2 separate regions of the Homo sapiens genome follow, and region 2 is linked to region 1. Evidence: fine-mapped expression QTL. Tissue or cell type: whole blood. Region 1 holds a variant in brackets; the other region holds the start of a gene. All regions are shown on one strand. Distances are from middle to middle.

Region 1 (8,105 bases):
CCTGCACCTGTAGTCCCAGCAACTTGGGAGGCTGAGACAGGAGAAGTACTCAAGTACAAAAGGCAGAGTAATTGGGGAAAAGGCATACACGTTTATTTAGCATGTGTTTATACATGGGAGTGTACAGAATGAAAACTCAGAAATACAGGGGAGAGTTTCCATTTTTATGCTTAGGTTCAACAAAGTATGGACAGCTGTGTAGAAATACGATAGGACAAAAAAGGTCTGATCTAACGCTAACAGCCTGAGTGGGGGAACCCAGCAAGGCCTGTCTCTCTAGATTCTTCTTGGCCTCTCTGAGCAGCATTCCTTCCTTCTGGGTATGGGCCACTCTCTGGAATGGGGGTCAGATAATTTCTTTATGGCCAGTTTTTACACAGAAAGGCAAAGGGAAAATTGGAGTAATATTTTTAGGTTTTATGGCTGGCTTTGGGAAAAAAGCATTCTGATTTCTGTAACCTGCATTGGAGAAGAGGGATTCTAGTTTCTCAGGCTAGCCTCGGAGGGAGACTGGGACTGAGAGACAGGAGGGCAGAAGAAGGTCAGAGAAAAACGTGTTTCTGAGGCTATTTCCGAAGCCTTCATTTTGGGGTACTGTTTTCCGAGCCCCAACAGAAGGAAGGTGCATTTTCTTTGGCCTTGGGATTGATGTTGAGCTGGGTCTGAGCTGCTGTAGAAAATGACCCACTGTCCAACCTCCTACGCTGGGCCAGAGCCAGACCAGACCCAAGGGTTTGGAGAGGGCACAATTTCCAAGTTGTCGCTTTCATATTTCACATCTCCACAGCCGTGCACATTTAGCAATGAGGGAATGGCCAGCCATGATTTTGATGCTGATGTCAAAGCATTCAAAAGTCTCCAGAGAAAGGAAGACCAGTTGAGTGGGGGTGATAATATGAAAGGAACATTTTTAAGAATAAGTTCTGTTAAGAAAAAAAAAGAATCTTAGAGGATGTATTTATGGATGACAAATCTCACAAGGACTCTAAGGGATCAGGAATCAGTTTGAGTTCTGAAATAACAGAAAAAGGCATGAACAGAAACACAAAGCAAGGAAGAGGGGAAATGTGTAAGCCAGATATTTGGAATTTACACACACGTGTGCATGTGCACACACAAGCACACATAATTTGTCTCAAGAGCGGGGAACATTTCCCAGCTAGATATACATTTGTAGAAAGCATTAGCTGGAAATACATGTACCCCAATATTTACTCCCATTCGCAATTTTTCTCGTAATTGTAAGGTGGAAAAGGTTATATAATACATCTAAGGCTCAGGTTACTCAATTATAAAATAGGAATAACTAGGCTGAGCTCAGAGACTCATGCCTGTAATTCCAGCACTTTGGGAGGCTGAGGCCAGCAGATCACCTGAAGTCAGGAGTTCGAGACCAGCCTGGCCAACATGGCAAAACCCGTCTCTACTAAAAATACAAAAAATTAGCCGGGCGTGGTGGCTGGTGCCTGTAATCCCAGCTACTAGGGAACTAGGGAGGCTGAGGCAGGAGAATTGCTTGAACCTGGGAGGCAGAGGTTGCAGTGAGCCGAGATCACACGATTGCACTCTAGCCTGGGTGACAGAGCAAGACTCTGTCTCAAAAAAATAAATAAATAAAAATTAAAAATAAGAAATAAAATAGGAATAACTGGTGGTACCTGCTTCATTGGATTATCAGGCATATACATTGGTTAATCCATATAAAATGTTCAGCACTATGCCTGGCATATAGTCACCACACCATACATTTCAGAAAATACTATTTTTGCAATAATTAAATCAATTGAAACATTTATTGAGTGCCTTACCTACTACAGTACATGCCAGGCACTCTGTTAGATAGAATATGGGCAGATATCACCTTCAAGGTGTTGAAAAGAAAGTGATTGAGACGTTGTAAATGAATAATTACAATGTAACTGAGTAAGGGGCTGTAATTAAATCATTATAACGAAGCAAGGATCTTGGAGGAGACAGCAACTTTTGTTTTCTCTCCTTTTTTTTTTTTTGTATTTTTTCTAGTAATTACACTTCCTGAACAATCAGGAAAAATGACTTGTGAGTTAGAAGTGTAATGACTAGAATTTAGGCAGGTTAAAAAAGAAAAGGAGATAAAAAGGAGGTACTATTACAGGAAGAGTAACAATGATGTATGCCCTGGAGGAGAGTGTTTAGGAAAATTGTAAAATGTCCGATGTGCTTGACATGTAGTGGGCGCTGGGAAGGTGATGAGCAGATACCTAAGGGATGGCTGCAGAATTAGGGTTTCCTCCTTCCGGCATTAGGAGGCAGTTGAGCAGGTCTGTATTTTAGAGCAGCAGTATGGAAAACAGCCGAAGGAAGAGAGGGCCCTAGAAGGGAAACCTCCAAGGAGGCTGCAAGGAATGAGGCCTGCACAAATCTTGTTCGTTCACTTACATCGATTGTGCTTCTACCACTGTGCTTCTACTATGTGCCCAGCACAGTTTTAAAGGGTTGGGGATACAGAAATGAACTAGACAGACAAGGCCCCGGCCCACATGGAGTTTGATATTCTACTGGGGAGAGACAGACAATACAAAAACAAACAAGTAAACAGCAAGATTATGAGGAGTACAAAGAAGTAAATAACAACGGGGTGTCATGAAATAGAGTAAGGTAGGTGGAAGGTGGGAAGAGCTTCTTTAAAGGGAAGGTCTTTCTGAGGAGAAAATGGAAATGCAGAGGAAAGAGTCAGGAGTCAGGGATCAAAGAACCTGAGAAACCCCTGACATTGTTTTCAACATGTGGTATATAAGTGCATTTTTATGGGGAGATTCTCAGAGGGACATGGCCGTGATCTCATCCCCCCAAATGTTTAGTATTCATTTGCTGTACCTAAATATATAATTAATTTTGTTTTAAATTTTTCTCTATATCAAAAGGTGGGGGTGATGATAGCTATGCAGATATATCTAACTAGATAGAGAGAGATTCTTCCCCCACCCCTCCACTTATTTCATGAAGCTGTAATAGGAGATATGCATTTCGGGGTACAAAATTGGGCTGTGTGATTTACATGTATCCTCTACATGAAAAAAGAAAAAAAATCATCTTTTGTTTTTCCTATTGAAAGGCCGACGACGGACCTGAAACTGACCGGATGAGCTTGGTGTCAACAAGGATGCCTCTTCTTCTATGTTAATATATTGTACAAGCATAGATATAACTTCACATGTATCAATGCGTATATATTGTAGCTTAGTCTGGAGGACTACGTACCGGGCGGTGCTCCTGGCTTGATGTGAGCAGGCGGTGGGAATGGAGGGTGGAGGCGGGTGGGCCGGGCCCCGGGTCCCAGAGGCCCACTGGCCATGTCGCGGAGAGCTCAGCCTGGAGAGGCCCAGGGAAGGGCCTGGAGGCCTCGGGGAAGGCCTGGGGAGGGTCAAGGAAGCCCGAGGAGGCCCAGGAAGGCCGAAGAAGGTCCAGGACGCCTGGGGGAAAGTCCGAGAAGGCCCGAGAAGGCCCGGGAGGCTCAGGCTTTCCCGCGAGGCCGGGGGCGGCCCCTTCAGGCCAGGATGGCCGAGTGGGCTGCGCAGCCCCGCGGGGGAGGCCGGGCGGGGCGCAGGGACAGGGCCTGAGGCTTGTTGTCCTCCCCTGGCGGCCCCGTGCGTCCCGCGGGCCCGGCGGCCGGGTGACCCCCGAGAGGCTCCGCGCCTGGGCGGCCGGCGGCGACCCCGCGGCCCGCGAATACGCGTGGACCTTGTGGAACGCCGGGCCTCCCCGGGCGCCCCCGCTCTCTGGTAGTTGCCGGGAGACCCGGCCGGTGGGGAAGCCCGCGGAGCCGCAGCCCCGGCCCCGGAAGGTCTCTCTGGGCCCCGGGCCCGACTCCCACCCCTGCGCCGGCCCGCGGGCTTCGCAGGCCCTGCACTGCCGACCGGGCTGCGCTCAAGGCCGCCAGCCGCCCGCCGCCCTCTTTGTCCCCC[C/A]GCTGCAGGAAGGCCGCGGCAGAGGGGGCGCCCTCCAAGCCGTCAGCCACGCACGCGGAGGCGCTCGGGCCTCGGGGCGGCGCACCGGGAGAGCACGCCGGGGAGGACACGTGGGCCTTCGCGCGGTGGGTTGAGAGCCCCGGCCCCGGGGAATCCCGCAGCCCCCTCCTGCTACCCCTGGAACTGGGCTCCCCACCCAGTCCGGCCACAGCTCAGGAGGAAAAGGGGATTCCTCTTCACGGGGGCCTTGCGGCTCCCTTGAGACACGCGCCTTCAAGCACTCTGGCCCCTAAAGCTCCTGTCCCCCAACTCGCAGTCCCCAAGGCGTCCTTTGTCCCCAGGGCCGTCCTTCAGGTGCGGTGGCCTTTTCCAGGAGCTGGATGCCCTCCTTCTTGACACACACCCGGTGGCCCCAGGCAGCGCCACCTGCTCAGCAACCGCCTTCCTCCTGCATTCAGACCTAGTGTCTGGCATGCACACACTCGTGGACCAATAACCGGTGTTGGCTGAAAACCTACCTAAACTAAATCTCCTATTTCTTCATACACTTTTCTGTAGGAGACAATCAATTGTAAACGATTAGCAGATAGACCGATTACTGCGGTGGCTTTAATTTGTGATTCTTGGCCGGGTGCAGTGGATCACGCCTGTAATCCCAGCACTTTGGGAGACTGAGGCAGGTGGATCACGAGGTCAGGAGTTCAAGACCAGCCTGGCCAACATGGTGAAACCCCATCTCTACTAAAAATATAAAAATTAGCTGGGCGTAGTGGTGCTCGCCTGTAATCCCAGCTGCTCGGGAGGCTGAGGCAGGAGAATCGCTTGAACCCGGGAGGCGGAGGTTGCAGTGAACCGAGATCGCGCCACTGCACTCCAGTCTGGGCAACAGAGCGAGACTCTGTCTCAAAAAAAAAAAAAAAAAAAAAAGTGATTCTTTCCAGATAGCCATACCTTAATCCAGTGACTGTTTTGCTTGTTACCTTAGAGTTCTCTAATTCTTTTACCTTAAACGGCAGTGGGTTAAAACCCTTTAGGTACCTTGATTGATTGGTGCGGAAAATATTGTTTGGTCCTGGGGGCATTTTGTTGTCTCCGAAATATGCACGGGGTGCTTGCCTGGCCTAGTTGTAAGGGTTCAACCCTGCTTTCAAATGGAGCAATTGTTTTGAATGAATAAAAGGAGACTTTGTGCCCCTGTTTTCTAAGTTCCAGATAATTCACCATAGTTTGTTCCAATGTGTATTTCATCTTCTTAGCTGATATTTGCTTTCTCACCTCTGATCTCAATTTCCTAATCTTCTGTTCTGAGATCTGCCAGTTTGCTGTTGTCTGTGCTCCTTTTGAGTCAGGCTTGCCCCTTGCTTCTGGTTGGTTTCGTACTGTCACCCCCACCCTGCTCTCCTAGCCCCTCTCTTCTGCTTTCTAAGCATTCTCTTACCTCCTTTAGATGGGAAATCAAAACTCACACTTTCTTTTTTATAAATGTTGACCCTTACCCATAAATGTGCCTATCCCGCAATCTGTGTAGGATTTTAAGGAAACAGAGCAACAGCTACAACAAAATGGGGAGAAGAAATGAGAACTGTGCTAACAGCCTACGTGTGTCAAACATCTCTCAGGAGGTATGGCAGGCGCTGTTGAACTTGAGTGTTTGGGCAGCGGCTCCTGTTGCTAACACGTAACTCCCATGGAGTTTTCTTGTAGTGATGCCCTTGCTGCGTTTGCATCGTGGGCAGTTTATCCTGTGTTTTCCTTTTGGCACATTTGGAACAGCAAATGGAAATTTTCTATTTCTTTTAACAAAGGGAAAATTAGCCAGCTCTTCTCCAAATGTCAAACATTTCTAATTGCAATTTGGCTTTGTTAAAGGTGCTGCCTTGTTATCAACCAGGCAGTGCTCACTTCTTTTGTTTTCACACACACACCCTTTGTGAAAAATATTGGTAAGGCAGGTGGGATATCACAAAGCATAATCAAGTCCCAACTCTTAAGAAATTTGCAAACTGTCAGACTTCATGTTTAGTTAATGAGCATTCTTTACCAGTTGATCAATTTGGTTATGTTAATTTTTTGTTGTTTTGGTGTTTTTTGTTTGTTTGTTTTGGAGACGAGACTTAGTCTTCCTCTGTCTCCCAGGCTGGAGTGCTGTGGCACGATCTCAACTCACTATAACCCCCACCTCCCGGGTTCAAGCGATTCTCCTGCCTCAGCCTCCCGAGTAGCTGGGACTACAGGCATGTGCCACCACGCCCGGCTAATTTTTGTATTTTTAGTAGCGACATGTTGGCCAGGCTGGTCTTGAACTCCTGACCTCAAGTGATCCACCCGCCTTGGCTTTCCAAAGTGCTGGGATTACAGGTGTGAGCTACCATGCCTGGCCTGGTTTCATTAATTTTATTTTAGAATTGCAACAACACAGTTTCATCAGCTGAGGATATTTCTCTCACGTGCATTTCATACAAAAGTATCAGGATTATATAGCTGAAAAAAGCTTAAAAATCCACCAGACATCGTAAAAAAGTCTGAAGGGGTGCATCTCACACATGAACATAAAAACCCAGTCATCGTGCTGTGAACTACAAAAGGATCTTTAAAATACAAATAACTGGGCCTCACCCTCATTCTTTTTTTTTTTTTTCTTTTTTTTTGAGACGGAGTCTCACTCTGTCACCCAGGGTGGAGTGCAGTGGTGCTATCGTGGCTCACTGCAACTTCTGCGTCTCGGATTCAAGTGATTCTCCTGCCTCAGCCTCCCAAGTAGCTGGGATTACAGGCACCCACCACCACGCCCAGCTAATTTTTGTATTTTTAGTAGAAATGGGGTTTCGACATGTTGGCCAGGCTGGTCTAGAGCTCCTGACTTGAGGTGATCTGCCCGCCTCGGCCTCCCAAAATGCTGGGATTACTGCCACTTGAGCCACTGCGCCCGGCCCTCACCCTCATTCTTTAAAATCAGGATTTGCAGCATTTTTTTGCAACTATTATTTTTAAAAAGCTCCCCAGGTGATTCTCATGTAGAGATTAGCCCTTGTACATATCATGCCAGAGAGCAGAGAATTAATTTTATTAATTATATTTTTCATAAATCTATAGAGAATGATAATCTGCAGTCTCCCTTCCAATGTTCAACTACCCTTCCTATCAGGAGATATCTCTTTGTGGATAAATTAATCCTCATGCTGTATTGAAGCTTATTTCTCTCTGTTCCTCCTTAGTGAAGAGATTGTATCTAATAATACCTCACATTTCATTTGCTTAGAGTTTAATTTACAATGCTTTTTTGAGACAGAAAACAATTGGGTTCATTCCTAAAAAGTTACTTTCTTATAAACGAATCACCTCTTCACTTTCTGTTTTCCAGAATAAATTGTTATAATCTTCTACACACCTCCCACATTTTCCCCCATAGCACTCTGCACAATGTCTGGAACATAAATACTCAGTTGTTATTAGCACCTTTCCCGTTTTATTTTTGGCTTTCTTTTGAATATTTCCTAAGTGTTCCTCCACATCTGGAAGCCAGAATGAGTAGTGGGCTGGTTAGTGTTGAATATAATATGAGGGTTAGAGACTTCCTGTGGTTGATGGAAAGATTTTTACAGGCTTTTATTTTTTTAATTTTATTTATTTATGTATGTATTTTGAGACAGAGTCTCACTCTGTGGCCCAGGCTGGAGTGCAGTGGTGTGATTGCAGCTCACTGCAACCTCCACCTCCTGGGTTCAAGCGATTCTCCTGCCTCAGCCTCCCGAACAGCTGGGATTACAGGTGCGTGCCGCCACACCTGGCTGATTTTTGTGTTTTTATTGGAGACAGGGTTTCACCATGTTGGCCAGGCTGGTCTCAAACTCCAGACCTCAGGTGATCCTGACCTGCCCCGGCCTCCCAAAGTGCTGGGAGTACAGGCATGAGCCACCACACCTGGCTTTTTATAGACTTTTAGATCTGATACTCAGATATAGAAAGTTTGATGAATGCACCATTGTGTTCCAGAGGCACACTGAACAGGACATTTTATTACATTTTAAAAATCAATTTTGAAAACCTGTGTTATTATATTTAACAAAATGTGAACGAAACCACAAATTATTGTAAAAGCCTGATTCCTCAACAATAGGCATTATCAAACTGATAAGGGCTTGGTTAAGAGAAAATTGCTTT
Region 2 (8,105 bases), 58 kb before region 1:
GCAAGTAGGCAAACTCTCAAATACACAAACTACGAAAAATAAGGATTGACTATGTTTTTCTAATCTTATTTAAAGTCAAGCTGCTGATTTATGGATGGAATTTTAAATTTACTTCTTTCTTGTGCAGAACAGAGAAGGCAGGAGCACCTTTGCTGAGTCAATAAGGATACCACCTGCCTACGAACCACGGATGCCATTCTTGAACATTCTTCTCAGCCCTTAAATGCATGTAAATTATATGACATTGTGTTGAATACATATAATTGTCTTTGTGGCTCTCTGTGGTTAACTAAATTGTAGGTATTGTTCTTGTTCTTATGTATTCATTAGGACAGGTAAATTAATTTAAGCTGTGGTGTAAACAAGAAAAAATGGAATGACTTCAGAAAAGCAGCCATTTCTTACACAGTGTATCTATCAGTTCCAATCATTTTCAGAGGGAGAGTCCTCCAAAAATAATTTTTTTTTTTTTTTTTTGCTACAGAAGGATAGTTGAAAAGTATCCTCAAATACAAGGTCAGGTTAATGCTTGTGCAACATACAGAAAGAGTGGATAAAAGAGCCTTGGATGAATGAACAAATCACGCAGGTGTAAAGCACTTAGACAGAGGTGATAACATGAGCCAAATGTTTACTTTTGAAATGACTTTCTTCTCTAAATTATAACGATGGGAAATAAGAAAAACACCCCAAAGCAGGTAATATTCCAGCATACTATTTTTAATATCTCTGACATATAAGATTGTGTAGGAAGGCAATACAAAGCCTAGCTAGGAAGAAGAAAAGAGGATTAATTTTGTAAAGGAGACATAATAATGCCACAGGTTTAATTTATCTCAAGCAATGTCATCCAGCTAAAGCAGGAAACAATTATGATACAGAACGTTGAACGTGGACTAATCATTTTAATGACTAATGGAAAAAGCTATAATAGATTTTTCACCCAGAAATTTATAGAGTTAAGTAACACCACAGTTGCCTTCGTACCACTCTCCCCAGTTCATTTCGGCACAGGAACTTGGCAACAGTCAAAGTCCTCTGCCTTTAGCTACCACTCACTGAAAAAGCAACATTTCAAACCACAAAAACACTCATGTTAACACCTTCTGACAACTTAATGAAAAGGTAGCAACTGACTCACAACTTATTATCAAATGTGGAAAAGCACGCTCTAGAAGGAAACTTTCAACAGCTCATCCATCATCCAACAAACCTTCACAGAGTACAGTATTTTCTGTCAAGCAGTGTGTCCAGAAATGAGAAAGGGGTTGAATACAGGGTAGAATTCTTCCCAGGATATGCCCCTTGTAATAAAATAGATTACTAATCAGATATAAAACACAGTGACATAGGGGCCAGAAGAAAGAAACGCCCAGGAGACTGTAGGAACTCAGGACAGGACTAACCAGTGGGTGGGTCAGAGGAGATTCCTGGATATGCCAATGCCTGGAATGAGAGAACCTGGAAACTCAGAGAAACTGAGCATCCCAAGTTCACCTGAAATGGGAAGTTAACATGTGGGGCTGGAAAGAGGTGCCTGAGAAGGTAGGCAAGGGCAAATCTTGTGGGCCTTATTTGCCAGTGCTAAGCAGCTTGGGTTTGTTTAACAGGCAAAGGGGACTCACTAAGAGATTTTCAGCCAAGGGGAGAGATCGGGGAGAATCGTGTGGAGTGTAAGATTTAAAATTTAGGGAGACCAGCCTGGAAGCAGGGAGAGAATGGATTGCAGAGGTAACTGAATTAGCAAAACTGGGAAGTGGCTGCTACAGGAATCCAGGTAACAGTAATCTCAAAATCAATGAGAGCATGAATTAAGACGATGCAGAGGGATGTGAGATGAGGGGGAAAATTAAAAAAATATATTTAGGAGACAGAATCACTAGTATTTGATGAATGATAGATGTGAGGTGTCAGTGAGGTAAGGGAATCAAAGACTCTTCCAGGTTTCTAGCTTGCACTGTTAATTGGGACAGTGTATCAGAATTGTTCCTCAAGACTGAATGTGACAGACTCTGTACATGCTGTAACAACAGTATCTGATGATGTAAATATTGGAAATAAAAATTATCATGACTGACAGAGTCATCATGTAACATTCTACTCTGATATAATCTATTCTATGATCTTAAAAAAGAAACATTCACACTACCACTGAGCACAACACTGTGAAGTCGATATGCTGACCCCAAAGATTCATTATAGCCGGAGACAACACTTCCTGTGCACCTGCTAAGAGAGTCTGAGATTCTCTCAACCCAAAGAACATCAACGGCCCTCCCAGGCAGCATCAGTCCCCTGCAATCAATAAGACAGGATCTAACCAGACTGGAGGACCCCCTCCCCAAGATTTTCATAAGCTCCAGGGGAAGCTGGTTATATAACAGGGTGAAGATTAGAGCTTTAGAGAGGTCTTGACTGAGTTTCTGCCTTTCCTACTCTTATCCAGAACCATTACACCCTGAAGATATATCTGGAGTCCAGGATTTCACTGAGAACTGGATAGCTGGGCATGCCAATTGTATCTTCAATGGCTCTCTGCTTGCTCTCAGCACGGAATCCAAACTCCTTAGCACAGATACAATGATCTTCAAGCTCAGGTGGAGAATCTACCAAAATCACAATGGTTCCCTTTTGCTGCAACTGGCCCTCCCACCCACAGGGCCATGGCAGCCATGTTTACAAGGCATGGTCTGGACACCTCTTAACAGTTTAGTAAACCAAATACGGACCCAAGATGACCCTCTTTAGGATCTAGGAATCTAAATGTCTGTCTCTTTAACCAGGAATGTCTGTCTCTTTAACCATCTCCTTTCTCTCAAATGCTGGATATAATGGGGCTTTAGTAAATGACAGCTGGTAGATATGCAAATGATTTCTCCAATAGGAAAAACATTCCTCCCGAGGTTATGGTTTTATTGCTCTATGGGATATTAACCAGTTTTGTTTCTAACTTTGCAATCTATTCCAGCATTCTTTTTTTAACATTGACTATATTAAACTAGTCTTTTAACTTCTTCTTTAGCACCCTGTTGGTTCCCTAATTAATGAGCTAAGTAAATCTTTGACACATGCTCTTTCTATATTTTTAAAATTATAGTTTGAAAAAGATAAGCTAATTTCCCACACCCCACTCTTTTCTGTGGTAGGTATAAGCCTGAGAGTAGTTTGCTTGCATTGCAAAAGGTTTCACTATCAAAATATGCTTACCAGTATGAGATTTAAAAAATATTTCCATGACAGCTGTTTCATCTTCTGGAAATGAATGAGTCTTGTATTATCTGCAATATCTGATTACTGCATTTCCATTACCTCTGAGGTTATCTAACAGCCTTGGAGAGAGTCAAGGTCTCTGAGAGAGGCAGCTCAGCCTACCAACTACCACTTTGTAATATATGGAGAGGCCAGGTGTGGTGGCTCACACCTGTAATCCCAACACTGGGAGGCCGAAGCGGGTGGATCACCTGAAATCAGGAGTTTGAGACCAGTCTGACCAACAAGGTGAAACCCCATCTCTACTAAATACAAAAAATTAGCCGGGCCTGGTGGCGCATGCTTGTAATCCCAGCTACTCGGGAGCCCGAGACAGGAGAATCACTTGAACCCAGGAGGTGGAGGTTGCAGTGAGCCGAGATTGTGCCAGTGCACTCCAGCCTACGCAACAAGACGGAAACTCCATCTCAAAAAAAAAAAAATCTCTTTGGGATAAGCCCAAATTGTTCTATTTGACTTTTGGTGTTGCCCCATCTACACTATTACCCAGATCTACCTGATGAAACTTAATGATAAAGTTACTTGAGACTTGGACTCTGCCCACCTGCAAGCCTCCTGTCTTTGGGGAATTCACCTGATTAATCTTTCTGGGTCTCAGTTTCCACATCAGCTCAACAGGGCAATATGCTCAACAGGGCAATTTCCACATCAGCTCAACAGGGCAATATCATTTTCCTTACAGGGTTGTCCAAAGACTTACAATTAGCCTGGCTCACTATAGGTAGTCCACAGGTGTCAGCTACATAAATCTAAAACTCCTAGGCATGCTTGGATGGGACAACTTGGGCACAGAATTTAGAGGGGTGGTTTTGTTTCGTTTTGTTCTGTTTTGTTTTTTGGTTCTCTGGGAACTGGACAAGGTGACACAGCCAAGGCCCTTCCAACTCTTAAGAATTCTTCCCCAAAGAAAATACTTTGCAAATGCCTCAGCAGAACTCAAAAATATCCACAAACTCTTCACTGACACTAAAAACTTGGGTACTCCAAAAATCACTTCTGACCCCCAGGCGTCCTACCAGGTCTGCAAACCTTCGATTTGGGGATGCATGACCTAGCAGCTTTTAAGCATACGCCCTCAATTGTTACCCCACCTCCCGGCTCAGGGCTGGCCCTCGGGATGCAGCGACCCCTCCTCGCCAGGCTCCGCGGGACTCCGGGCAGGGCGCTCAGTGCTCCGGCAGCCACAGGGTTCGCAGAGCTGAGGTCCGCCCGAGAGAGCAGCCGCGCCTCCAGCTCGCAGTTACTCGGAGCCAGGCCGGGGAGCATCTGTGCCCCGCCCCACGCGCCGCGCAAGTCCTCCCGGGATCACCCTCCCCGCGCCGCGAACCCCCCGCACTTCCTCCACTCCCGGGTGATACCCGGCCTCGCTCCGGCCCCGCCCCCGCATCTGAGCCCCGACTCCTAACCGCCTAGAGCTCCCGCCCCGCCCACGCACCGACCCCCCCGGCCCCACCCCCGAGCCCCCGCAGCCCCAGAGGAGGCCACGGGCTAGCGATGGCGAATGCGGCGTGGCTACGCTCTCAGCCTGGCCCCGCCCCAACCCTGGCCCCGCCCATGCCCCAGGCTCCTGCCTGGGCTCTGCTCTCGGCCCCGCCCCGCACCCAAGCCCCGGCCCCACCCCCGAGCCCCCGCAGCCCGGGAGCCTAGGCCCCGCCCCCGAGTCCCGGCTCCACCCCCGAGACCCGGCCCCACCCCCGAGCCCCCGCAGACCGAGCTAGGCCCCGCCCCCGAGACCCGGCCCCACCCCCGAGCCCCCGCAGCCCTAGAGCCGCCCAAGGGATGGCGATGGCGTACTTGGCTTGGAGACTGGCGCGGCGTTCGTGTCCGAGGTAAGCTTGGAGTCCCGGCCGTTCGGCCCATGGTCGCCCGCAGGATACCGCTGTCCAGGCGAAGGTCGCCGCCGTTGGAAGACCCTCCTTCCCTATTGTCTAGGTGGCAACAGGATTTTGCTTTGCTGGTTTTCCGGTGAGGTAGTGCTAAAAAGTGACGACCTCACGCGCGCCCTCCTGCACCGCTGGGCCCGGAGTGGTCAGGATGGGCGCGTCGGGAGGTCAGGGCTATGGTTCCCTGTCAGCAGTCCCCAAGGTCTCCGCCTGCCTCCGCGCACGCTCCCATCCTCCTGGGGCCGGACTCCGGGCGGGTGAGCCGCCCCAGCTGAGCACCCGGGCCTGCACTTCCCAGCCGGGCTGCTTCTGGGGTGCAAAGCGTCGCTTGCTAAAAGCGAGGTAAACGCAAGCCGTTATCACTCGTGTGGACTTAACACTCTGCTTCTTGGAGAACACGTATGCTATAAAGTGAAATGGCCGGGTACAGAGTAACGGCTAAGAAGCACGCTGCACCTCCCTGGGGTCCCGGGAACCCGCACGAATCTGTGCATAGGGAACAAAACCGAAACACGGTGGTGGCCTTGAAGTGGTAGAATTATGAGTGATTTTCCCGACTTTATGTATTTTCTTAAATGGTCGTGTTTTTGCTATTTGTTTTTAAAACTCACGCTTTATTTAAAAATAAATTTGTTCCACATTTTGTGGAAACTTGTACATTTCGGCTTTCTGTGGATATTTTAAATTTTTCTTTCGTTTTCTACGTGGAATTTGCCATATAAGATGCAGTTTTTCCCTTTACAGAAAATCATTTTAATGTAAAACTTACTCTAGGCTGATCTTACTGAATCAGTTACTAATAGTCCAAAGTTTGAACCTAGAGTTCATTGCACCATTTTCGAGTTACATAATTGTGTTTGTGTGTTAGGTTTGGGCTTTGTAACCTGTATTATTTTAATCATCTTTTTTGCCATTAACTCTATTATTCAGTGTCATCGTCGTGAACTCCATTTTTAGCTTGTGGCCTGAGTCCTGTGCATTCAAGTTTGCCACCCCACCCCCGCTCACTATGTGTGCTTAAAAACGTGCTGATCACCCCCGCGGTGGTTGCTGTTTCTGCTCTGTTCCTGGCTGGCTGGTTAAACATACCCATAGAAAGGGGCACGCCTGCTGAGCCCCCTTCACTGACTCCCTTCCACTGCAGGTAGATTCCCTCCCATCTGCTGAGAAGGCTGTGGCTCTATCTGGAATGCCAGCAACTGCTCGTGTGTTCTTTTGAATATTTCTTGTATGTTCACATCCATTCTCCCCTCCTTCCACCTGTGTGTATGTTGGAACACCAGCTTCGCCAGCAAAGAGGCAAGAATTGACCTGATATAGCTTATGGCTTATCAGTGAGTGCAGAGGCTGTTTCAGGACTTTGGGACACTTCACTAAATTCTGTGCACTTTAGCCTTTTGGTTTCCTGCTGTCCACTGTCTTGCATGCACTTCACTTCTTGCCTTTGGCAAAATTTACATGGTCATTCCTGTTCTGGCTGCTTTTATCTTTAGTTGCTTACAGATACCTCCCTGGATGGTTACTTTTCCTTTTATTTAAAGTTACTACTGTTAGCTTCTGTATTGACTTATTATCTTGGAATCCTTACAGCCAATTATTTGCAGCCAGTTTGCTGAGGCAAGTATAAAGAAAATATCTATAGACAAACATGGCATTTTGTTATGTATAGGCTGGGAACAATTAGAAATCAGGCTGCAGAAATGTGAGGGTTGGGAACAAATAGAAATCAGTCTGCCTAATTGTAGTTCTCTGCAGGTCACTAGTTTCCCGGTAGTTCAGCTGCACATGAATAGAACAGCAATGAGAGCCAGTCAGAAGGACTTTGAAAATTCAATGAATCAAGTGAAACTCTTGAAAAAGGATCCAGGAAACGAAGTGAAGCTAAAACTCTACGCGCTATATAAGCAGGTAAATGCCTACGGTCGAACGTTATTTAAAGAATTTTGGGCAAATGACTTCTTAAATAAATACACTGTGTGTTTACTAAAATGTGGCCTTAACATTTTGGTTTGTCTTGCTCCCTCTTCTCTGAAGAGTGTGTGTGTGTATATATATATATGCCAGTTTTTTATATTAGACCTTGAAATACTATTAAGGCACAAAGTGCCTCAGTGTCACACGAGTAAAAGAGACTTACGAGATATAATATTCACATTTGTAGACCTTACTTAGCTCTTGATTAGAATAAATCAACTGAAAAAGGTATTTTTAAGACAATTGGGGAAGTTTTGAGTAAGGACAGAGTGTTAGAAGATACCTAGAAATCATCGTTAATGGTGTCAAGGTTATATAAGAAAATGTTGATATTTTTAAGAAAAGTGTACTAAGGATATAGGGGTGAAATAGCATGGATAGTTGAAGTTCTCTAAGCACAAAAAGAAAAGGATAGATGAGGCCAGGCATGGTGGCTCACGCCTGTAATCCCAGCACTTTGGGAGGCTGAGGCGGGCAGATCCCTTAAGGTCAGGAGTTTGAGACCAGCCTGGCCAACATGGTGAAACCTCATCTCTACTAAAAACTCAAAAATGAGCTGGACTGGTGGCGCACACCTGTAATCCCAGCTACTTGGGAAGCTGAGGCAGGAGAATCGTTTGAACCTGTGAGGTGCAGGTTGCAATGAGCCAAGATTGCGCCACTGCACTCCAGCCTGAGTGACAGAGCGAGACTCTGTCCAAAAACGAAAGAAAATAAAGAGAGAGAGAGATGAAGCAAGTAAGGCAGTTTGATAATTGTTGAACCTGGATGATGGGTATTGGGAATTCATTATAGTATTCTACTTTGGTATGTTTGGAAATTTTTATAACAAAATTTAAAAACTAAAGCTCTTAAGTTTCAATGCCAAAGACTTCCCTGGCATGTCTGCCTCTCTGGGCTCCTGTGTTATCTATTTTTCTGTCCTATGATGGGTATGAGCTTCTCTTTCATATGGGTGTGTATAGTAAAAAATTTAAC

The links. PIP is the estimated chance that this variant, and not a neighbour inherited with it, causes the effect.
Region 2: ECI2 starts here. The variant in region 1 is fine-mapped to the expression of ECI2 in whole blood (TOPMed, PIP 0.99).

What each region holds. Positions count from the first base shown.
Region 1 is chr6:4,074,816-4,082,920 of GRCh38, reverse strand. FAM217A (family with sequence similarity 217 member A) reads left to right here and starts at 3,784. Exons shown (of 7, transcript NM_173563.3): 1 at 3,784-4,069; 2 at 5,473-5,566. The coding sequence starts at 5,507. It also overlaps the pseudogene LOC124901553 and the pseudogene TEX56P. The variant C/A (reference allele first, on the strand shown) is at 3,945.
Region 2 is chr6:4,132,505-4,140,609 of GRCh38, reverse strand. ECI2 (enoyl-CoA delta isomerase 2) reads left to right here and starts at 5,035. Exons shown (of 10, transcript NM_206836.3): 1 at 5,035-5,099; 2 at 6,899-7,061. The coding sequence starts at 5,050. It overlaps ECI2-DT (ECI2 divergent transcript), which reads right to left and starts at 4,538. Exons shown (of 4, transcript NR_103764.1): 1 at 4,362-4,538; 2 at 3,208-3,249. It overlaps LOC107986559 (a long non-coding RNA gene), which reads left to right. Exons shown (of 2, transcript XR_001743933.2): 2 at 128-276. RefSeq lists silencers at 4,480-4,689, 4,850-4,989.